3 linked regions of the Homo sapiens genome follow. The protein of the gene in region 1 purifies or fractionates together with the protein of each later gene. This does not show direct contact. Each region holds a gene or a part of one and is shown in the gene's direction. Other genes may lie near its edges. The genes, in order: DNAJC8, SLC4A1AP and TRAP1.

The links.
Region 2: the proteins of DNAJC8 (region 1) and SLC4A1AP purify together in Homo sapiens (affinity purification with mass spectrometry; 2 studies listed by BioGRID and IntAct, with this or other methods). This does not show direct contact.
Region 3: the proteins of DNAJC8 (region 1) and TRAP1 purify together in Homo sapiens (affinity purification with mass spectrometry; 2 studies listed by BioGRID, with this or other methods). This does not show direct contact.

What each region holds. Positions count from the first base shown.
Region 1 is NC_000001.11:28,201,840-28,209,444, reverse strand, and holds part of DNAJC8 (dnaJ homolog subfamily C member 8), read left to right. Parts: intron 1-1,031; coding exon 1,032-1,103; intron 1,104-4,095; coding exon 4,096-4,187; intron 4,188-5,622; coding exon 5,623-5,698; intron 5,699-7,605. UniProt on the Homo sapiens protein: Suppresses polyglutamine (polyQ) aggregation of ATXN3 in neuronal cells.
Region 2 is NC_000002.12:27,673,490-27,681,094, forward strand, and holds part of SLC4A1AP (kanadaptin), read left to right. Parts: intron 1-2,042; coding exon 2,043-2,203; intron 2,204-3,805; coding exon 3,806-3,875; intron 3,876-4,248; coding exon 4,249-4,435; intron 4,436-7,605.
Region 3 is NC_000016.10:3,714,447-3,722,878, reverse strand, and holds the start of TRAP1 (heat shock protein 75 kDa, mitochondrial isoform 1 precursor), read left to right. Parts: upstream 1-5,354; 5' UTR 5,355-5,370; coding exon 5,371-5,458; intron 5,459-8,432.

The sequences.
Region 1 (7,605 bases):
ATACATAAGTCTCCAATGTGGTGGGAAATGTCAGTATGGCTTTCCCAAGGTAAGAAAGGTCTTTTAACTTTTTACTTGCTGGGGCAAGAATCTTGAGGTCATTTGTAAGAGCTGCTTCAATTGTGATTGGATGACTTTTCACATGAAGAGCTTTGAAATCTGAGACAACTTTATAACCATAATAATGAATCCAGTTTCGGTGAGGAAAATGGATAAGAAGAGGAGACAAAGGGCCCATAACTATATCCTGCGGGTCATGTGTTGGAAATGGCACTTGTAGGCCCTATCCTGGTAGAAATAGGGAAAGTGCCTGACAGTTTCTCCTTAAATCATTGTGGCTTCGTATGTCTTTCACCTGTAAGAAAGTCATCCTTAGGCTTCCTGACCACAGGGTGGCAGTAGGGCCTTTCTGAGCTTAGAGGGTACTTGGCCTTTGCTGGTATAATAGACTGGTTAGTTCATGGAGTAGTGTCATTCTTGTATGAATTCGTATATTTATTTATTTATTTTTTATCTCAGTAGTGGCCAATGTGATAAAAGTATCAGTTAATATGATATGTGGTTTAAGGAGGTTCCATGGTGAAAGTGATCAAGAATGCAGTTATAGAAATGCCAGAAAAACTACTTGGACATAATGCCACAGATTCTGTAGCTTCTTCTAAAACTTGACAGATATATTTGCTTTGCTCTAAACACATAACCACAAGCCAAGAAAGGTAAATAAGTAGTCTGTTTCAAAGACTTTTTGGATCTGATGAGTTGGGGACAACCTCCCGTTGGTCCCCTTTCATCTTTCATTCTTCCTGGTAGATTGGATTTTAGATGAGATTAGAAAAAGGACTTGTGGTTCCTAATTTTCCTTGATTCTGTTGTTCTTTTGAGGAGGGAGGGGAGGGGCTCTTTTTTTTTTTAATGAAAACTTTTTGCTATACCCGTGCCTATAGAAAGTTAAATATATTGTATGTGTACAGCCCAGTGGATATTCTCAAAGCACAGATGCTCGTCTTTTGATGAAAAAAAATTCTTTTTAGGTGAAAGAGCGAAAAAAACAATTAAAGAAGGAAGGAAAACCTACAATTGTAGAGGAGGATGATCCTGAGCTGGTGAGTTAAATATAGGAAAAGCCACTGTATCTTGTGTGATTGTGTCTACGAATTGGTGGGTTACAGAGACAGAAGCCAAAAGAATGATGAATATATGCTATTTCACATTTATTTATTTATTTATTTATTATTTTTGAGACTGAGTTTCACTCTTGTTGCCCAGGCTGGAGGGCAATGGCGCGATCTCGGCTCACTGCAACCTCTGCCTCCTGGGTTCAAACGATTCTTCTGCCTCAGCCTCCCAAGTAGCTGGGATTACCAGCATGTACCACCATGCCCGGTTAATTTTGTATTTTTAGTAGAGATGGGGTTTCTCCATGTTTGTCAGTCTGGTCTCGAACTCCTGACCTCAGATGATCCGCCTGCCTTGGCCTCCCAAAGTCCTGGGATTGCAGGCTACAGGCATGAGCCACCCTGCCCGGCCTCTGGCTAATTTTTTTGTATTTTTAGTAGAGACGGGGTTTCATCATGTTGGCTAGGCTGGTCTTGAACTTCTGACCTCAGGTGATCCACCCGCCTCGGCCTCCCAAAGTGTTGGGATTACAGGCATGAGCCACCGTGCGCGGCCTAATTTTTATTTTTTAAAAAAACATTTTATTTGGCTGGGCGCAGTGGCTCACGCCTGTAATCCCAGAAATTTGGGAGGCCGTGGCGGGTGGATCATGAGATCAGGAGTTCGAGACCATCCGGGCCAACATGGTGAAACCCCGTCTCTACTAAAAATACAGAAATTATCTGGGCGTGGTGGCACGTGCCTGTAATCCCAACTACCCGAGAGGCTGAGGCAGGAGAATTGCTTGAACCTGGGAGGCAGAGATTGCAGTGAGCCAAGATCGCGCCACTGCACCTCCGCCTGGTGACATAGCAAGACTCTGTCTTAAAACAACAACAACAACAACAACAACAACAAACATTTTATTTGAACTTAAAACATATAAATATACATTTATTTATGTATTTGTTTGAGACGGGGTCTTACTCTGTTGCCCAGGCTAGAGAGCAGTGGTGCGATCTCAGCTCACTGCAACCTCTGCCTCCCAGGTTCAAGTGATTCTCCTGCCTTAGCCTCCTGAGTAGCTGGGATTACAGATGCCCGCCATCAAGCCTGGCTAATTTTTGTATTTTTAATAGAGACGGGATGTCATCATGTTGGTCAGGCTGATCTCAAACTCCTGACCTCAAGTGATCTGCCCTCCTCGGCCTCCCAAAGTGCTGGGATTACAGGCGTGGACCACCGCACCTGGCCCAATTTTTTTCAGTTGTTTTTTTTTTTCCTGATTATAAAAGAACACATGCTAATGATAGAAAATTTGGAAAAAGAGAAATATAAAAAATATAAAATCGCAGTGTCTGTCTATCCCGTGTATGGAGCTTTTAAATATACTGAGCTATTCATTACAGACTCCTTTATCCCTTTGATGTTTGTCTTTATTAGGGACTGGGGTTGAAGCATTGCTTTTAGTGAGCAGTGTCTAGCAGGTAACAGGATAAAAGAGAAGTCACAGAGATTTAGGGACTTCTTTATTTTCCTTTCTCTCCATATATCACTCTTTGCTCCAGTGTCTGATTTTAGAATTTAGGCACTATTAAATATGCATGACAGATTACTTTTGTACTTCCATGTCTATTTAAAATACTTTATATCTGGAGAAAAATATTTAAAGGTAGAATAACATAAGCTGTGTTCTTAAGAACTCTTGAAAATAAAGAATTAAAAACTGGTAGGGAGGGCATTGTGATTTCATTAACTTAGTGTGACAGGGGCTGGGTCACTTACGTTCACTTATTTTTTTGTAATTCTTTTTAGAGATAGGGTCTCCCTTTGTCACCCCGGCTGGAATATAGTGGCATGATCTTAACTCACTGCAGCCTTGACCTCCTAGGCTCAAGTGATCCTCCCACCTTAGTGGATATTATACATTCTAATAATAACCTCTGGTGGCTCATACCTATAATCCAAGTGCTTTGGGGGCTGAAGTAGGAGGATCTTTTCAGCTTAGGAGTTGAGGCTGCAGTGAGCTATGATCACACCACTGCACTCTAGCCTGGGTGACAGATTGAGACCCTGTTTCAAAAACAATAATAATAAATAATAATAGCTTCTGTTCCTATCATTGTAAGACTATCATATAATATACTTTTTTAAAAAAGAGATAGAGTCTTGCTCTGTTGTCCAGGCTGGAGTGCAGTGGCATAGTCATGGCTCACTGCAGCCTTGACCTCCTGAGCTCAAGCGATCCTCCCACCTCAGCCTTCTGAGTAGCTGGGACTACAAGTGTGCGCCACCACACCTGGTTAATGTTTTATTTTTAATATTTTTTGTAGAGATGGGATCTCACTATGTTGCTCAGGGTGGTCTCAAACTCCAGGGCTTAAGTGATCCTGCTGTCTTAGCCTCTTGAAACGCTGGATCTACAGGTGTGCACCACCATGCCCCGCTAATTTTTGTTTTTGAGACGGAGTTTCCCTCTTGTTGCCCAGGCTGGGGTGCAATGGCATGATCTCAGCTCCCTGCAACCTCTGTCTCCTGGGTTCAAGTGATTCTCCTGCCTCAGCCTCCCGAGTAGCTGGGATTACAGTCACGCACCAACATGCTTGGCTAATTTTTGTATTTTTGATAGAGACAGAGTTTCACCATGTTGGCCAGGCTGGTCTTGAACTCCTGGCCTCAGGTGATCTGCCCACCTTGGCCTTCCAAAGTGCTGGGATTACAGGTGTGAGCTACTGCGCCTGGCCTGCACGCTAGTTTTAAAAAAAATTTTTTTGTAGCAATAGAGTTTCACTATGTTGCCAGGGCAGTCAAGCTCTTAGCCTCAAACGATTCTCCTGCCTTTGGCCTTCCAAAGTGTTGGAATTACAGATGTGAGCCACGGTGCACAGCCTGTGCCAGGTTTTAATCTGCTTTATCTTGGACTCCAGGTGAAAGTACATGGTTCAAGTTGCTGGTAAAAATATTTACTCTGATTTTCTTTTGTTCTTGATTTTCCTGTAGTTCAAACAAGCTGTATATAAACAGACAATGAAACTCTTTGCAGAGCTGGAAATTAAAAGGAAAGAGAGAGAAGCCAAAGAGATGCATGAAAGGTACATATCAGTATATTCATTTAAACCATATTTAAATACCTAGATTAACTAACATTGGTCTTTGGTGATTTTCCTAATGAGGGAATTATATAGTATACCATTTAAGAGACTATAAAAATAGTTACCTAAAAACAGTCAAGCTTTTGAATCACCAGGGTAAGTAGTTTTTTTCTTTGACTTTTGAGAATTATTGAATAGGTCTGTCCTTAGGGAGTGTATTTTTTATTTATTTTTTTGAGACACAGTCTTGCTCTGTAGCCAGGCTGGAATGCAGTGGTGCGATCTTGGCTCACTGCAACCTCCACCTCCCAGGTTCTAGCAGTTCCCCTGCCTCAGCCTCCTGAGTAGCTGGGACTACAGGTGTACACCACCATGCCCGGCTAATTTTTTGTATTTTAGTAGAGACAGGGTTTCACCATGTTGGCCAGGATGGTCTCGATCTCCTGACCTCGTGATCTGCCTGCCTTGCCCTCCCAAAGTGTTAGGATTACAGGCATGAGCCACTGCATGCTGCCAGGGAGTTTATTTATAATCAAGAGCCTTGTGTGTGTTCTTCCTGATGTCCTGGAGTGAAATAAGCAGTTATTAAGGCCATTGTTACTGAAGCCAGAACCTTTTGTGGGGCTAGTGGCTACAGCTTTGGTGAGTGTATAGTACTGTAGTGTCATCAGTAACAAAATGTTTAATGTTCTAAAATATGATTTCTCTTGAACATCAGAAATGTTAGAATTTCGCTTTTGTTGCCCAGGCTGGAGTGCAATGGCATGATCTTGGCTCACTGCAACCTCCACCTCCCCAGGTTCAGGTGATTCTCCTGCCTGGCTAATTTTTGCATTTTTAGTAGAGACGGGGTTTCACCATGTTGGTCAGGCTGGTCTCGAACTCCTGACCTCACATGATCCACCTGCCCCAGCCTCCCAAAGTGCTGGCGTTACAGGCATGAGCCGCTACATCCGGCCGAGTTTTGTTTCTGTATGTATTTTATATTGTTGCTTGGTAGGTACCAGTAACTAAAATTTGCTAGTTGAGGTTGTGTGAAATATCTTTGTTTTCGGATAGGGTTTTGTCCAGAGATCTTAAGAACTTTGGCTTTATAATGGTCATTCTGCTGAAATAAGGTGGCCTGTGTTCTCGACATAGCTTTGTCACTGAAAGAGCCCAAAACCTCAGATTGCTCTTGGCTGGGCTTTAGTTACTTTATCTGTGTAACAAGGATATTTATGTCTTTCCCCACAGCCATGCCCAAGTCTGATCTGCGTGTTTTAGAATGAGACATTCATGAAAATGCTATGAGCCCTTTCCAGACAGCCATCTTTGTAGACTTCTAGGGAATTGATTTACTATATATGCTTGCTTCTGTGGGGAGATGCCACCTTGTATGGTTAATTCAGTCTGTAAGTATCATATAAATACTATGATCTGGTTTTCCTCCTAGGAAACGACAAAGGGAAGAAGAGATTGAAGCTCAAGAAAAAGCCAAACGGGAAAGAGAGTGGCAGAAAAACTTTGAGGTAAATTTCCAAGGTGGCCAGGGATTCTAATTCCAGAATAAGGCAGCTTGGTTCCTGTGGCGCTCCCAGGACTGAGTGGGGCAGTCAGAGGGGAGTGGGATATGTGGGGAAGAGTGGGAGAGGTGAAGAATGAGGCTGGGCCTGCCTCAGCCTCCTGTAAGCTCTGTAGCCTTGGCAAGGACGATGAGGATCCCTGAATGGCTTTTTTAAAATTTATTTTTAAAAATTATTGTTTAATTTCTTTTTACAGCACACTAACAGTTTCACCCTGAATGGTTTTTTAGATTGTAGTAGGCACAGCTGCCCAGTGGGCTCAAGAAAAATGGATTGCACTTTTAATTTAGGGGGTAAGCATAGAGTATTGTGCTGCTTAGAGATCTGTTAGTAGATGCTGAAGTTCTTGTGCCCACAGTGTCCTACCTGCAGAGAGAGTTAGAACCTTTGAACTTGACTCTTCTTTGACACCCTGGTTATATGCTTCAGGTGGTTGGACAGAAGGATTGTGGCAACATTCGGTCTTTTCTTCTATAGGGTTTAGGACTCATGGTTAGGGGCTGGCTAATCAGAGTTGATGACTTTGTTTCTGTTGCACTTCATGTATGGAAAGAGAAAAAATGATAATGAGGTAGAGGTCCTAGTGGCCACCCCTACACAACTCGCTAGGCATTGTACTGGCTTTGGAGCAGCCATCCAAGTTTTGGGGGGCAGCAGAAAGGTGCAGTGGAAAGAGTAGCTGTACTGCTAGCTAGCTGTATGGCTTTTAGAAAATCATTTAACCTTTTTGAGCCTCAGTGTTATTTGTGAAGCACTGGTAGCAGTACACACCATAGTCGGCTTTTGGTGACAATTAGAAATACCATATGCTGGCCGGGCGTGGTGGCTCAAGCCTGTAATCCCAGCACTTTGGGAGGCCAAGGCGGGCAGATCATGAGGTCAGGAGATTGAGACCATCCTGGCTAACATGGTGAAACCCTGTCTCTACTAAAAAAATACAAAAAATTAGCCAGGTGTGGTGGCTGGCACCTGTAGTCTCAGCTACTCAGGAGGCTGAGGCAGGAGAACGGTGTGAACCCAGGAGGTGGAGCTTGCAGTGAGCCAAGATTGTGCCACTGCACTCCAGCCTGGGTGACAGAGCCGTCTCAAAAAAAAAAAAAAAAAGAAAAAAAAAGGCCGGGTGAGGTGGCTCATGCCTGTAATCCCAGCACTTTGGGAGGCCACGGCAGGCGGATCATGAGGTCAGGAGATCGAAACCATCCTGGCTAACACGGTGAAACCCCGTCTCTACTAAAAATACAAAAAATTAGCCGGGCGTGGTGGCGGGCCCCTTTAGTCCCAGCTATTCAGGAGGCTGAGGCAGGAGAATGATGTGAACCCGGGAGGCAGAGGTTGTAGTGAGCCGAGATCGCACCACTGCACTCCAGCCTGGGCAACAGAGCGAGACTGCATCTCACAAAAGACAACAACAATGACAACAAAAAAAACCATGTTAAACGTCTAGCCTCGAGGTCCCCAACAAATGGGGCCTCAGTGTTGTGATGATTATTACTGATTTCGTCCTCCTCTTGCAACCTGCAGCTCATCCTGCGTTCTAGGGGTGCTATGACACTTTCTTGGGCCCTTGGGAGTGGGAAGAAAGCTCTATTCTACTTTTTTTTTGAGACGGAGTTTTGCCCTTGTTGCTCAGGCTGGAGTGCGATGGCGTGATCTTGGCTCACTGCGACCTCCGCCTCCCAGGTTCAAGTGATTCTCCTGCCTCAGCCTCCCGAGTAGCTGGGATTAACAGGCATGCGCCACCATGCCCGGCTAACTTTTTATATTTTTAGTAGAGATGGGGTTTCTCCATATTGGTCAGGCTGGTCTCGAACTCCCAACCTCAGGTGATCCACCTGATGTGTGAGCCACCATGC
Region 2 (7,605 bases), on another chromosome or scaffold:
TTTCCTCTATGCTGCCCAGATTGGAGTGCAGTGGTCTGATCACAGCTCACTGCAGCATCAACTTCCGGGGCTCAAGCGATCCTCCCGCCTCAGCCTCCTAAGTAGCTGGGACTACAGGTGCACACCACCATGCCCAGCTACTTTTTTTAGATTTATTTTTAGTAAAGGCAAGGTCTTGCTATGTTGCCCAGGCGTGGGTACATCTCTTTACTATGGTTTATTGGGATTTAGGGAAAGAGGGAAATTAGATATGTGTGTTTAATGTACCATCTTAACCTGCAAATTAGGCTTATATTAATAAGGACTATTTTCCTTGCAAATAATAGAAGTCCAATTCAAACTAGCTTAGGGGAAAGGTCATTGGCTGCAGAAGCTGGGAAGAATAGCTCAGGATGAAGGAACAGGAGTGAAGGAACAACTGCATGAACCAGAACCTCAAGTTCTGAAACCATAACTTAGTACTACCAAAGTAGACTCAGCATCACCAGGACATATACAAGTTGTGTGTGTGTGTGTGTGTGTGTGTGTGTGTGTGTGTGTGTCTGTGAGTGAGTCTGTCTCACGAGTGCATTTTTAAACTTTGCAGACAGATTCTTACCCTGTGCTGAAAAGCTGATTGCTTACAGCCCTGAACTTAACAGTCTCTCACTTTAATAACCTCATTGTAAAGAGAGCCTCTTTGCCCCATCTCTAAATATAAATATGAGGGAAAGAGTCTTACTGATTTGGCTTTGGTCCTATGACTATCCCTAAACCAGATAAAATGGGGGAGGAATTTTCTAGGGGAAAGAGGTACTTTTATCAGAACAAAGGGAGTAGAATGTTGTAGGGTGAACAAAAAAGTAATAGCTGTCATAGTTTCTTATTGATGGACTCTTTACATATTCACTGTTATAAATACTATTGCATTGATATTTATAGAATAAATTCCTAGAAGTGGAATTGCTGGATCAATGCATTTTTAATGGCAGATATTGTAGGCTTGACCATCAAAAAGGTTGTATCAATGTACATTCCCACCAATTATTAATCTTTTTATGTTTTTCTAGTCTAATAGATGAGAAGTATCTAATTTTTAAATTTGTACTTTATTTTTTTTTAAAGTAACATATTTAAAAATATTTATTGTATTTTTCTGTGAACTGCTTTCATTATCCTTTTTCAAATTTTCTTTTGGGTTATTGTCCTTTTTCTCATTTTTCATTTTCCTTTTTTCCTCATTGATTTTTTTTTTTTTTTGAGATAGAGTTTCACTCTTGTCACCCAGGCTGGAGTGCAGTGGCGCTTTCTCGGCTCACTGCAACCTCTATCTCCCAGGTTCAAGCAATTCTCCTGCCTTAGCCTCCTGAGTAGCTGGGATTACAGGCACCCGCCACTATGCCCATCTAATTTTTGTATTTTTAGTAGAGACGGGGTTTCACCATGTTGGTGAGGCTGGTCTTGACCTCAGGCGATCCATCCCCCTTCAGCCTCCCAAAGTGCTGGGATTACCATGCCTGGCCATCCTCATTGATTTTTAAAAGCCGTTTGCTCATTAAATAAATTAACTATTTGCTTTAATGAAAAATTATTTAATAAGAAATTGTGGGAAAATATACATAACAGAAAAGTGTACCATTTTAAGCATTTTAAGAGTATCACTCAGTGGCATTAAGTACATTCACAATATTATGGAACCATCAACACTGTTCATTTTGGAACTTTTTTATCATTCCATACTGAAATTGGTATCTGTTAAACACTAACTTCATTCTCCCTCCTTCCCAGCCTCTGGCAACCACCATTCTACTTTTCTGTCTCTATGAATTTGACTACTTTAGGTATCTCACATGATGCAGTAAGTGTCCTTTTATATATGGCTTATTTCACTTAGTATAATGTCTTCAAGGTTTAGCCCTTTGTTTTTATACGTAGTTTGGCAGCTTGTAGAACCTCTCTTTCAGTAGTTGATGGTGACATTTTAAGCTCCTTGCCTACTTGCCTTCTTTCTTTTTCTTTTCTTTTTTAAAAACTTATTTATTCATCATTTTATCTACCTCTAGTATCTCGGAAAAGGAAAGCCAAGAACTGGGAAGATGAAGACTTTTATGATAGTGATGATGACACATTTCTTGATAGGACTGGCCTGATTGAGAAGAAGCGTCTGAACAGAATGAAGAAGGCTGGCAAGATTGATGAGAAGCCAGAGACCTTTGAATCATTGGCAAGTTTTATTTATGGAAGTAGCTGTGGTATTTAATAGTTTAATTTTTAATAACATAATGTATTATTTAAATATGTTTTATGATAATTTTTAAAGTAGTAGCATTGAAATCTGATACTGAAGTATAACTTTTGTGGTCTGTTAATTTAATGGTAACAGACAACTAGTCTTATCCAAGTTGTTTGAAAAAAATATGGCTTGCTGCTAGATCCTTTCCTTCAGGATATTGATCCATTAATTAACATTCTTTGGATATGATATTACCTCTCTCAAAAGGAAAGGAAAAAGTTCCAAGTTAGGGCGTTCTGAGGTGAAATTGACTTTAGCCTTCTGGCAGTCAAGAGAAGTCAAAGGAATTTTGAAGAATGTAGTATGGTAATATGTAGTCTGAAACAGTATGTTCTTCAGGAAATTATCACAAGGTGACGTGTTAATGGGTAGGTAACAGACAATAATAGGCAGGTAATAGGCTACCTATTAGACTAGAAAAAAACATAAGATTAATAATGCAGAGCTTGACCAGAATATGGAGAAGTAGACTCTCAATTGGTGGGAATGTACAATACAACCTTTTAAGTGATCAATCCTACGACATCTGTCAGTATTAAAAATGCATTGATTCAGCAATTGCACTTCAAGGAATTTGTTACAGGTATTAATTTATAGTAGGATTCAGAGCTTAAAACATTACCCAACATCTATCCTTTTGATTTATGTGAAAACAAATGCCTTGAGCTCTTTCTTCTGAGTAAAATGAAGTCCGAGTTATTCATTCTGTTTAATTCTGTGTTTTTTAATTCAGAAATAAATTAAATTTGGATTTAACACATAAAAAGTGTTAACTCCTGGCTGGGCATGGTGGCTCATGCCTGTAATCCCAGCACATTGGGAGGCTGAGGCCGGTGGATCACCTGAGGTCAGGAGTTCGAGACCCACCTGACCAATGTGGTGAAACCCCACCTCTACTAAAAAAAAAAAAATACAAAAATTAGACAGGCGTGGTGGTGTGTGCCTGTAGTCCTAGCTACTCTGGAGGCTGAGACAGGAGAATTGCTTGAATGCAGGAAGCAGAGGTTGCAGTGAGTCGAGATCACGCCATTGCACTGCAGCCTGGGTGACAGTGCGAGACTCCATCTCAAAAAAAAAAAAAAAAAACTATTAACTCTGGCCAGGTGTGGTGGCTCACACCTGTAATCCTAGCACTTTGAGAGGCTGAGGCAGGCTGATCATGAGGTCAGGAGATTGAGACCATCCTGGCCAACATGGTGAAACCCTGTCTCTACTAAAAATACAAAAAGTAGCTGGGTGTGGTGGTGCACACCTGTAGTCCCAGCTACTTGGGAGGCTGAGGCAGGAGAATCGCTTGAACCCGGGAGTCGGAGGTGGCAGAGAGCCGAGATTGCACCACTGCACTCTACCCTGGCAACAGAATGAGGCTCTATCTCAAAACAAAAAAAAAAGTGTTAACTCCATAAGTAGCAGTTTAACTGGACTTTTGAATTAATCTTCTTAAAACTTCTAGTAAGAATAATTAAAACAGGAGGATGAAAAACAGTTTGAAAGAAGAAAAACTTTGTAACCCTGTTGATTTGGGTGTTACAGGTTGCAAAATTAAATGATGCTGAAAGGGAACTTTCTGAAATTTCTGAGAGATTGAAAGCCTCAAGCCAAGGTAAGTTTTTCATCAAATATTTATTAATATACCACATATAGTGCTCTATGCTAGGCACTGGGGCTACATTAGTTAATAAGAAATACCATACAGAATATGGAGCCTTTTAAAGGAGCAACATACCGTTTTAGAACTAGAAAGAACATTATAAATCATTTGGTTTAACCTCTTTATTTAATTGTTGAGGGGAATGAAGCACATTGAGACAAAATGACTTCCCAAGGTCTCATGGCTATAACCTGTTCCTTATTCCTATTACTAGTGATGTCCTCTGTCCGGTTTTATGTTAGTGACTTTTATATGGAAACTTTGGCTGAATTTTAAAATATTCAGGATCATCTTTCTAAACATGTGTTATTCTTTTCTTGGACAGTTCTATCAGAGTCTCCATCTCAGGATTCTTTAGATGCGTTCATGTCAGAAATGAAATCAGGCAGTACATTAGATGGTGTGTCCCGGAAGAAACTTCACCTGAGAACTTTTGAACTGAGGAAAGAACAACAGAGACTTAAAGGGTTAATAAAAATTGTAAAGCCAGCAGAGATTCCAGAACTAAAAAAGTAAGTCTTAGTTATATTTGGAATTCTAAATAAGTATGGTAGCATAGATAACATTTTCAATTATCGCTTTATCTTCTTAAATAATCATTATATAATACAAATGTAATGCAAGGAACCCTTTAAAGCACAGAAAGCAGTGGTTTCATAGAGTAACTAAAAACCTGTTTCATATTTGTGAAATATAGACTGATAGAGGATTTTCTGAGAAAACTATATTGATTTCTGATTCATTGGAAGGTTCCGAAGTTTTTTTTACTTAATCTTTTAGTGTAGAATAAACTCCTTTAAAAAGCATCATGCACAAAAAGCTAATTTATCTAATATAAAAAGACCTCTGAGGCTGGGCGTAGTGGCTCATACCTGTAATCCTAGAACTTTGGGAGGTTGAAGCAGGCAGATCACTTTCAAGACCAGCCTGGGTGATATGGCACAACCCTATCTCTACAAAAAATAAAAACATCAGCCAGCCATGTTGGAGCACACCTGTGGTCCCAGCTACTTGGGAAGCCGAGGTAGGAGGATCGCTTGAGCCCAGGAGTTCCAGGCTACAGTGAGCTGTGATCGTGCCATTGCACTCCAGCATGGGTGACAGAGGAAGTTCCTGTCTCAAAAAAAAAATTAAATTATTAATAAAAAGACCTCTGAATGATAAGTAGACAGCCAACCACCCAGGAGAAAAATGAGTAAAGGATGTCTACTCACAGGCCACAGGAAAAGAAATACAAATAGCATCTTTTATACAAAGATGCTCAACTTCATGATCATAAGAGAAATACAAATACTACAACCTAATACCTTTTTTTTTTTTTTTTGAGATAGGGTCTCACTGTGTCACCCAGGCTGGAGTGCAGTGGCACAGTGACAGCTCACTGCAGCCTTGACCTCCTGGGATCAAGTGATCCTCCTGCCTCAGCCTCCCAAGTAGCTGGGACCACACGCATGCTCCACCATACCTGGCTAATTTTTAATTTTTTGTAGAGATGGGGTCTTGCCATGTTGCCCAAGCTGGTCTTGAACTCCTGGCCTCAAGGTATCTGCCCACCTCAGCCTCCCAAAGTGCTGGGATTACAGGTGTGAGCCACCACACCTGGTCTTAATAGCATTTTTATATATGAATTTGATGAAGATTAATTATGATTTTATACTGTGCTGATGAGGCTGACAAAAAGGCACTTTCTTATATTGTCATTGAAGGACAAATTAGTACATTCTCTACAAGACAAATTGGCAGTCTCTATCCTGATTACAAATGCACATGCCCTTTGATCTATTTCATTTCTAGGAATTTGTCCCTCACATACTTAGGAAATGATGTACAGCATTGTTTGTATTAATAGTAGTAAAAAATTAGAAATCCCCTAAATGTTTATCAAAGGGGATGGATTAAATAAATTGCGGCCAGGTGCTGCGGCTTACGCCTGTAATCCCAGCACTTTGGGAGGCTGAGCTGGGCGGATCACGAGGTCAGGAGATCGAGACCATCCTGGCTAACATGGTGAAACCCTGTCTCTACTAAAAATACAAAAAATTAGCCGGTTGTGGTGGTGGGTGCCTGTAGTCCCAGCTACTTGGGAGCCTGAGGCAGGAGAATGGCGTGAACCAGGAAGGTGGAGCTGGCAGTGAGCCGAGATTGCGCCACTGCACTCTAGCCTGGGCGACAGAGCGAGACTCCATCTCAAAAAAATAAATAAATTATGGTGTAGATATACAATAGAACACCATATAGCTGTTGAAAAAAAAGGCAACTATATATAAGATACAGAAACACTATCAAGATAAGTAACAAAAGCAAGGTGCAGAACGGTGTGTATAACAGGCGCTGTCTGTAAAAAATGATGGTGGGGGAAGAATACATAGATAAGTAGGCCATGGTTATGTTTATAATATCTGTTTAGGTCGGGTTCCCTAAAAACAGACTGAATCGGAGATTCATCTGCAAGTGATTTATTAAGAGAGTGCTCTCAGGAGAAATCTATATGGGAGTGAGGGAAGCAGGAGAGGGCAGGAGAAGAAGCTGGGCTAAGATATGGTTTCAGGAGAGCCTGAATGGCACCACAGATGCCATGGAGGCATGGGGCTTGGGTTTCGATACCCTGTCCCCCCAACCCTTCATTGGTCATAGGCTGCCGGTGACTGGGGGGTGGGAGGGGCTCACAGCAATTCTGGGAAGGGTGCAGGTGTGAGCCTTTAGCAGCCGATGTCTGCAGTAGCTGTTTGGCCTGATAAAGGGAATCTGGGAGGGACAGCATCTGCTACTGTATCTCTGGAAAGATTCGTTAAAAATTAATAATATTGATTGCCAATGGGGAAGGCAACTGGGTGGCTGGGGGACAGCAATGGGAGGGAGACTTTTCACAGTATATGTGCTTTATACTTGAGTTTTGAACATGTGAATATACTTTCTATTCTATTCAGATATACTGAATTTGAAAAGAAAATCCTGTACCAAATAGCCATACCACTTTAGGTCCAAATTTACTGTAATGTAGTTGCAGTTCTAGTTCTAAATAACAAATAACTGGAAAAAGTAAGAATCATATAATAATTTTGTTACAGTAAAACTATTTGTTAATAAAAGTGGCTGGGGACGGTGGCTCACACCTGTAGTCCCAGAACTTTAGGAGAGTGAGTGAGGTGGGAGGATGGCTTGAGTTCAGGAGTTTGAGACCAGCCTGGGCAACATAGTGAGACCCTGTCTCTACAAAAGATAAAAACTTAGCTGGGTATGGTGGTGCTTGTCTGTAATCCCTGCTACTTGGGAGGCTGAGGTATCACTTGAACCTGGGAGAGTGAGGTTGCAAGACCCTGTCTCAAACAAACAAACAAACAAAAACAAAACAAAAACAAATCTCTGCTTTGGAAAACAACAACAACAACAACAACAACAACAACAACATTTGGGGCAAGAAGAATTAAAAAAAAAAAAAAACGAAAACGAAATATGTCTCAGCTTCCTCCAGAGCCTCCTCTCCTGCTATCAGTCTGTGTGCTTGCCTGGTTTTTCCTCCCTTTCCTATTTTGGATACTGGTCTAGATGTGTATCTTCTTCCTCCTCTTTTCACTTATGGGTTGAACTTCCAAACTTTCTGCCTCCTACCCTAACCCCTGCAAGCAATCTTGATTGTGATTCCATCTTCTGCTTTTTCATCTCCTTTGAGCCAGTCTTAGCT
Region 3 (8,432 bases), on another chromosome or scaffold:
TGAGTAGATGACAGTGCTTTGCCGTTGATCTAAATTGTGCATAAAACGGTGCTTTTGATGGGCTCACATCTTTTTATAGAGGACTCCTCGAACTCCTGACCTCAAGTGATCCACCTGCCTCGGCCTCTCAAAGTGCCAGGATTACAGGTGTGAGCCACCACGCCCGGCTACTTCCTTCCTTTTTATGGCTGAGTAATATTCCATTGTATGAATAGACCACATTTTGCTGACCCATTCATCGTTCATGGTTACCTGAGTTGCTTCCACATTTTGGCTATTGTGAATAAAGCACCGGGCATTTTTCACGGCCCTCAGCTGACCCCAGTGGAAGGCAGTGGCTTCATATGGGCAGCCTCGTATTGGCCATAGAGGTGGGCAGGAGACTTGGGGGTTCTTCCCTTTCCCTCCCCAAGCAGCTCCCAGTCATTCTCCACTAATTCAAGTCAAGTACGTCTGCGTGTAAACATTTTTTCCTCTTTCTAGATTCTTGGTTTACGCGGAGCCTGAAGTCCATGTGTGGCCACCTTAGGACATGCCTTGGATCCCTCAGTACCTTACAAAGCCACAGGTCCAGCCGGGCGCAGGGGCTCACGCCTGTAATCCCAGCACTTTGGGAGGCCAAGGCAGGCGGATCACGAGGTCAGGAGATCGAGACCATCCTGGCTAACAGGGTGAAACACTATCTCTACCAAAAATACAAAAAAATTAGCTGGGCATAGTGGCACGTGCCTGTAGTCCCAGCTACTTGGGAGGCTGAGGCAGGAGAATCACTTGAACCCGGGAGGCGGAGGTTGCAGTGAGCCAAGACTGCGCCACTGAACTCCAGCCTGGGTGACAGAGTGAGACTCCGTCTCAAAAATAAAAAAATAAAAAAAAGTCACAGGGCCCTGGGCTAGCAGAGGCCCCAGGACCACAAGGCTCTGAGGCTGAGGGTTTGTCTCTGAAGGCTACAGGCCAACAGGACAGAAGGCTCTGGGGGTTTTTCTGGAACTTGGTAGATTTGCCCTCCACAGAACTTGGGGCCTGCCAGTCTTGGCAGAGGCCCCCCACCCTTAACTAAAGCCCAGGTTTCCCTCCTTTTGCCAAATATCACTTCCCCTTGTTGAAACTGGCCTGGTGTGGTGGCTTAAGCCTGTAATCCCAGCATTTTGGGAGGCCGAGGCAGGCGGATCACTTGAGGTCAGGTGTTCGAGACCAGCCTGGCCAACATGGTGAAACCCCGTCTCTACTAAAAATACAAAAATCGGCCAGGCATGGTGGCGGGTGCCTACAATCCCAGCTACTCAGGAGGCTGAGGCAGGAGAATCACTTGAACATGGGAGGCAGAGGTTGCAGTGAGCCGAGATCACACCACTGCACTTAAGCCTGGGCAACAAGCACGAAACTCTGTCTCAAACAACAAAAAACAAAACAAAACAAAAAAAGAAATAAAAGGCCTAAGCCAGATATATTGCCCCATGGACCAATGTGACAGCTGTTACAAAACAGAGGATTGGCCGGGTGCGGTGGCTCACGCCTGTAATCCCAGCACTTTGGGAGGCAGAGATGGGCGGATCACGAGGTCAGGAGATCGAGACCATTCTGGCTAACATGGTGAAACCCCGTCTCTACTAAAAATTCAAAAAGAAATTAGCCGGGTGTGGTGGTGGGCGCCTGTAGTCCCAGCTACTCGGGAGGCTAAGGCAGGAGAATGGAGTGAACCCGGGAGGCAGAGCTTGCAGTGAGCCGAGATCACACCACTGCACTCCAGCCTGGGCAACAGAGCAAGACTCTGTCTCAAAAAAAAAAAAAAAAAAAAAAAGAGAGAGATGATTTCCTGAATGGAGCGAAAAAGGGATGAAATGTGAAGCCGAGACACCCCCCACCCACCCCCATTCCCTGAGGACATGCTGGAAAGGGCTCTGCCTGGAGTGTGGTGATAGGGAACACAGGCAGGCCCATGCAGGCCTATAGGAGGAGGCAGAAGGAGTTTGGAAAGGATTGTAAATATGTGCATGTGTGTTGGTAGGGGGACCACTGGAGGATCTGAGAGACGGAGTATGATCCGGCTGCTGTGGAGGATGGGAGGCTGGCAAGAGCGGAAGCAGGGGGCCTGTCAGGGCTGCTGGAGTGGTCTGGGTGACAGGACCCTGCTCTTCCACCCAAATCTGCCCACCCTCTTTCCATTCCCTTCTCAATTGCTTAAGCTGGGAACTTGCCACTTTCCACCTGGAAGCGTTTCCTGACACATCCTCTTCCACCCAGCTCTGTCCCGGCCCCACTGAAGGTCACTCTCCTGGCTCCTGTGCTTCTCTGCAGCACGTGCCACGAGCTGGAGTCGCTATTTTTGTACAGTTATTAGAGTGTGGCAGTGAATCTTCAGTGTGCCTCCGAATTACCTGGGAACCTCAGTGGAGCCGCCTGGGCCCCACTCCGGGACTGAGGAGGTGCCGGGAAATCGGCATTATGAGGCTGCAGCTGGGTCTGGACCAAATGTTAGACCAGGGTGTATGGTCTGAATCTCCAACTAGTCTCTAACCTCCAGCAAGGTGTAAAGCAAAAACAAATTCTTTTTTTGCTGTTGTTTTTTGAGATAGAGTCTCACTCTGTTGCCCAGGCTGGAGTGCAGTGGCACGATCTCAGCTCACTGCAACCTCTGCCTCCCGGGTTCAAGCGATTCTCCTGCCTCAGCCTCCCGAGTAGCTGGGATTATAGGCATGTGCCGCCATGCCCGGCTAATTTTGTATTTTTAGTGGAGACAGGGTTTCTCCATGTTGGTCAGGCTGGTCTTGAACTCCCAACATCAGGTGATCCGCCTGCCTCGGCCTCCCAAAGTACTGGGATTACAGGCGTGAGCCACCGTGCCCAGCCGGCAAAAACACATTATAAGTCCCCCAACCCATGGAATGGATCATTCCTCTCCACCAAGGGGATTTCAAAGAAACCTAAAAAACTAGTTCAGGCCATAATTGGAAGGATGGGGTGGGTCCTGCCTCATTACACCCTCCACCCCTTGGAAATGAGGCACAACTGACCAGCGTTAACATTACAAAGGACTTTTTTTTTTTTTTGAGACGGAATCTTGTTCTGTTGCCCAGGCTGGAGTGGGAGTGCAGTGGTGCGATCTTGGCTCACTGCAATCTCTGCCTCCTGGGTTCAAGCGATTCCCCTGCTTCAGCCTCCCGAGTAGCCTCAGCTGTACACAGGTGCACACCACCACACCCAGGTAATTTTTTTTGTTTTTGAGACAGACTTTCACTCTTGTTGCCCAGGCTGGAGTGCAATGGTGCGGTATCAGCTCACTGCAACCTTCACCTCCTGGGTTCCAGCGATTCTCCTGCCTTAACCTCCTGCGTAGCTGGGATTACAGGCATGCGCCACCACGCCTGACTGATTTTTTGTATTTTTAGTAGAGACGGAGTTTCTCCCTGTCAGTCACGCTGGTCTCGAACTCCCGACCTCAGGTGATCTGCCCGCCTCAGCCTCCCAAAGTGCTAGGATTACAGGCGTGAGCCACTGCTCTTGGCCTAATTTTTGTATTTTTAGTAGAGATGGGGTTTTGCCATGCCGACCAGGCTGGTCTCAACCTCCTGACCTCAAGTGATAAGACCACCTTGGCCTCCTAAAGTGCTGGAATTACATGCGTAAGCCACCATGCCAGGCCACCTTTGCAGGTCTTTTCCTGATCCTGAGGGTCTAGGAATTTTTAACGGTCTGAATAAACAATATTTGCGAAAACATTTGCCATCTATTACCTGTAAGGGTGGTCATCTATGAGACTTCCTCTACATAATAAGAACCTTGGTCTTCACAACCTGTTTTTTGTTTGTTTGTTTGTTTGTTTGTTTTGAGACAGGGTGTGGCTCTCTTGCCCAAGCTGGAGTTCAATGGCACGAACTTGGCTCACTGCAACCTCTCCCTCCTGGGCTTAAGCAATCCACCCACCTCAGCCTCCCTTGTAGCTGGGATTACAGGCCTCCGCCACCACATCCGGTACAGGTATGTTTGGTACAGACAGGGTCTCACCATGTTGCCCACGCTGCTCTCCAACTCCTGACCTCAAGCAATTCGCCCACCTCGGCATCCCAAAGTGTTGGGATTACAGGTGTGAGTCACCGTGCTCGTGCCCACAACCCCTTATCTTCACCCAGACACTCTTTTTATTGATTCCAGGTCTGTATAACTCAACTCTTTTTTTTCTTTTTTTTGTTTTCTTTTTTTTTTTTTTTTGAGACGGAGTCACAGCTCTGTCGCCCAGGCTGCAGTGCAAGTGGCACGATCTCGGCTCACTGCAACCGCAGCCTCCCGGGTTCACGCTATTCTTCCGCCTCAGCCTCCCCAGGAGCTGGGACTACAGGCACGTGCCACCTTGCCCAGCTAATTTTTTGTATCTTAGTAGAGATGATGGGTTTTCACCATGTTGGCCAGGCTGGTCTCGGACTCCTGACCGCAGGCAGTCCGCCCACCTCAGCCTCCCAAAGTGCTAGGATTACAGGCGTGAGCCACCGCGCCCAACCAGAACTCAACTCTTTTAACCAATTGCCAATCAGAAAGTATCTGAATCCACCTATGACCTCTAAGTATTTCACCCTTTGAGTTGTCCTGCCTTTCCACACGGAACCAACCTATGTCTTACATGCATTGACTGATGTCTTATGTCTCTCTAAAATGTATAAAACCAAGCAAGCTGTAACCCAAGCACCTTGGGCCAAGTTCTCAGGACCTTTTGAGACTGTGCCTCCCTCCATGCACACTCATATTTGGCTCAGAATAACCTTCTAAATACTTTAGAGTTTGACTCTTCTCGACAAGGACAAGAGAAGTGGAATAAACGAATAACCGCAGTTTTCCTGGTGGTATTGGTCACTGGGTTCAGGTTTTGGAGTAGTAGCCAGTCAAGCCTGGAATCCCCTTCCTCATTCGCTTTAGCTTTTTGTCCAGTCTTGGTTTGCAAGAGACTTGCAGCGGCCTAGACGGATGGCCGGGATTCACAAAGGTCGCAGACACGGGAACTGCTTCTTCCCCAGCGTCGCCTCCACACCCTCGCGTGGATACTGACATCCGCCCCATTCCAGGAATGCGCACAGCTAGGCGCAGCCGGCCAGCGTGGGCCGGGGGCGGCGGGGCCACCTCCCCCACCTCCGCGCGCAAGGCCCGTCGCCCTTGACAACGCGATCCAAGGTCACGGAGGTCCCACCCCCAGGCCCGACCGTCCACGAGACGGGTAGTACCCCGCCACGCGCCCGAGCAGGCAGCTGCCCGGACAGCCCGGCGCCCGCCGTGACGTCACCGCCCCGCGCCCGAGGAAGCCCCGCCCCGCGCAGCCCCGTCCCGCCCCTTCCCATCGTGTACGGTCCCGCGTGGCTGCGCGCGGCGCTCTGGGAGTACGACATGGCGCGCGAGCTGCGGGCGCTGCTGCTGTGGGGCCGCCGCCTGCGGCCTTTGCTGCGGGCGCCGGCGCTGGCGGCCGTGCCGGGAGGTGAGGGCGTCCTGGCTGGACGGGCAGCGGGCGGGCCGGGCCACGGAGACGGCAGGGACGTCCCTGTGCTCCGGGGAGCGAGGCGCCGGCACCTGCTTCACAGGCGTGGGAGGTCCGGCGAGGCCAAGCGCGGCAGACGCGTTTACTTTCGCTCCGCTCCTCGCCAGCTCCAGCTTGGCTGCCTTTTCCTCGGCTGGACTCCCCTCGCCACCCGCCCATGGGAGCCCTGAAGGAGGCTGGGTCTTGGGGGGTCGCGGGGTCGGGCGGAGCGGCTGCGGGGTCGTCCCTCCTGGAGCTTCGGTCCAGTCAGGTAGCGCACGTGCAGGTGGAGCCGCTGCGGAGCGCGGAGTCTTTGCGGGTGCATGTTGCGGGGAATGGACTCACTCGGGGTGATCGTGCTAGTTCCATGGATCGTGCTTTACCCCTCCCCGCCTCCCAGTAGCGCACTGAGGGTTCATTTGTTAATTCGTTCATTGGACGCACATGTGAGCGCCCGCTCAGTGCCCGGCGCCGTGCAGGTTCTGGGGACGCCACAGTGAACAAAACCTATAGCAGTCATCCGGGTCCCCAGAGCAGGTGGACTCGATGTCGTTGACGCAGCTGTGTCCTCGGGGCCTGGAATTGATGGATGCGCCAATAAATGTTTGTAAAACAGAGAGAACGACCCTAACCTCTGCTTTCCCAGTCCCCACTCGGAGGTAACAACAGTGAAAGTTTCGGCATTGCTTCGGGGCTGTACACAGTGTTATACGTGTAAATATAAATGTCTGCGTATAAGTATTTTTTATTCTAAAAAGCCTAAACCATGTATGCATTGTGCTACGTTGTACTTCAGAAAATTTTAACGCTCCCAGCATTCTTTCCACATCTTTTCATGTCAGTGTATACAGGTCCATGTGCCTTCCAGTGACCACACAGTATTCTGTATGATGGACGTGTCATTTGTTTAAACATTGTCCTATTAGTGGACGCAATAAAGGTTATTTCAGGTTTTACTTTTTATTACAATGCTGCATAGAATGGGTGAGTACTTAAATATTTGTTCACGTGCGGTATTTCTTTAGCCTTACATAATTAGAATTTTAGAATTGATATTTCAGAGCCTATGCATTTTTGAAATGTTAGCAGATACTGCCAAATTGTCCAAAAAGGCCTTATCAATTTATATCCCCTTTAGCAGGCATCAAGACTGCCTATTCCAAAGGTATTTTCTTCAACGCTGAATCTTATGTCTTTTCAAAACCAGTGGTCTATAAAAGATACCTTGTGGCCGGGCGCGGTGGCTCACGCCTGTAATCCTAGCACTTTGGGAGCCTGAGGTGGGCAGATCAGGAGTTCAAGACCAGCCTGGCCAACATGGTGAAACCCTGTCTCTACTAAAAATACAAAAATTAGCTGGGTGTGGTGGCGCGCGCCTGTAATCCCAGCTTCTTGGGAGGCTGAGGCAGGAGAATCGCTTGAACCCAGGAGGCAGAGATTGCAGTGAGCTGAGATTGCACCACTGCACTCCAGCCTGGGCGACAGAGTGAGACTTCATCTCAACAACAAAAATAATAATAATTTTCCCTCAGAAAGTGATGCTGTTGCTCTCTTCTAGCACCAGTGTCTGATCAATTATTTATTTATTTTTTTGTCTTTATGAGGTGGGGTTTCACTATGTTGGCCAGGCTGGTCTCCAGTGCCTGACCTCAAGTGATCTGCCTGCCTTGCCCTCCAAAATGCTGGGATTGCAGGCGTGTGTCACCGTGCCTGGCCAACTGTTCTGTTAATTTGGTTCTCGTTTCTTTTGTAGCTGACTCGGGTTTTTTCCCCCTTGGAGGTTAAGATTTTTTCTCTTTGTCGTTTGTGGTCTCGCGTCCACAGGTGTTTGTGATTCATGCTTTGTATCATGCACTGTCCCTTCCATTTGGAAAATATGTCAGTTTTCAGCCCAGGGACATTTTAATTCTGTTTCTTTATCTCTTTTTCTTTTTCTTTTTTTTTGAGATGGAGTCTTGCTCTGTCACCCAGGCTGGAGTGCAGTGGCGCGATCTTGGCTCACTGCAAGCTCCGCCTCCCGGGTTCAGGCCATTCTCCTGCCTCAGCCTCCCGAGTAGCTGGGACTTTAGGCGCCCACCACCATGCCTGGCTAATTTTTTGTATTTTTAGTAGAGACGGGGTTTCACCCTGTTAGCCAGGATGGTCTCGATCTCCTGACCTCGTGATCCGCCCACTTCGGCCTCCCAAAGTGCTGGGATTACAAGCGTGAGCCGCTGTGCCCAGCCCTTTATCTCTTTTTCTTAAAAATTGTCTCTCTCCTCTCGTCCTCCATCTTCTGGTGCGGTGGTTCAAGCATTCCTCTGCCTGAGTCTAAGAAATGGAACATGTTCTTGGCAGCCTTCTGCGTGGCAGGTGCCCTTGTCATTGTCACCTGTGTGGATGAATGGGAAGGTAAATTGTTTGGATTGATTGAACGATGAGAGAATTTAGCTAAGAAAATACATGTCTTGTGCAACAGGGGAGAAAGAATAGTTTAGGCAGATCCACCTATGTAGAAAATCCAGACCTCTTGAAATTTTTTTCTTTTCTTGGGAAAGTATTTCCAGGTTGTAGCATGTGCCTGGCTTCAGGTGTGCGTGTCTTATGTCTGTGGAATCCTCTCGCCCATGCTACGCTGCCTCAGTCACCCATGAGCTCAGCCCTCTTACCCTTTCAGACCTCACTGACCCCTGACACTGCCAGCCCTGTCACTTGCCCTCAGAATATCTTATTTGATTTTTTTTGAGCCGGAGTCTTGCTCTGTTGCCCAGGCTGGAGTGCAGTGGTGCAACCTCAGCTCACCACACCCTCCGCCTCCTGGGTTCGAGTGATTCTCCTGACTTCGCCTCCCACGTAGCTGGGACTACAGGCGCATGCCACCACACCCAGCTAGGTTTTGTATTTTTAATAGAGATGGGGTTTCACTATGCTGGCCAGGGTGGTCTCGAACTCCTGA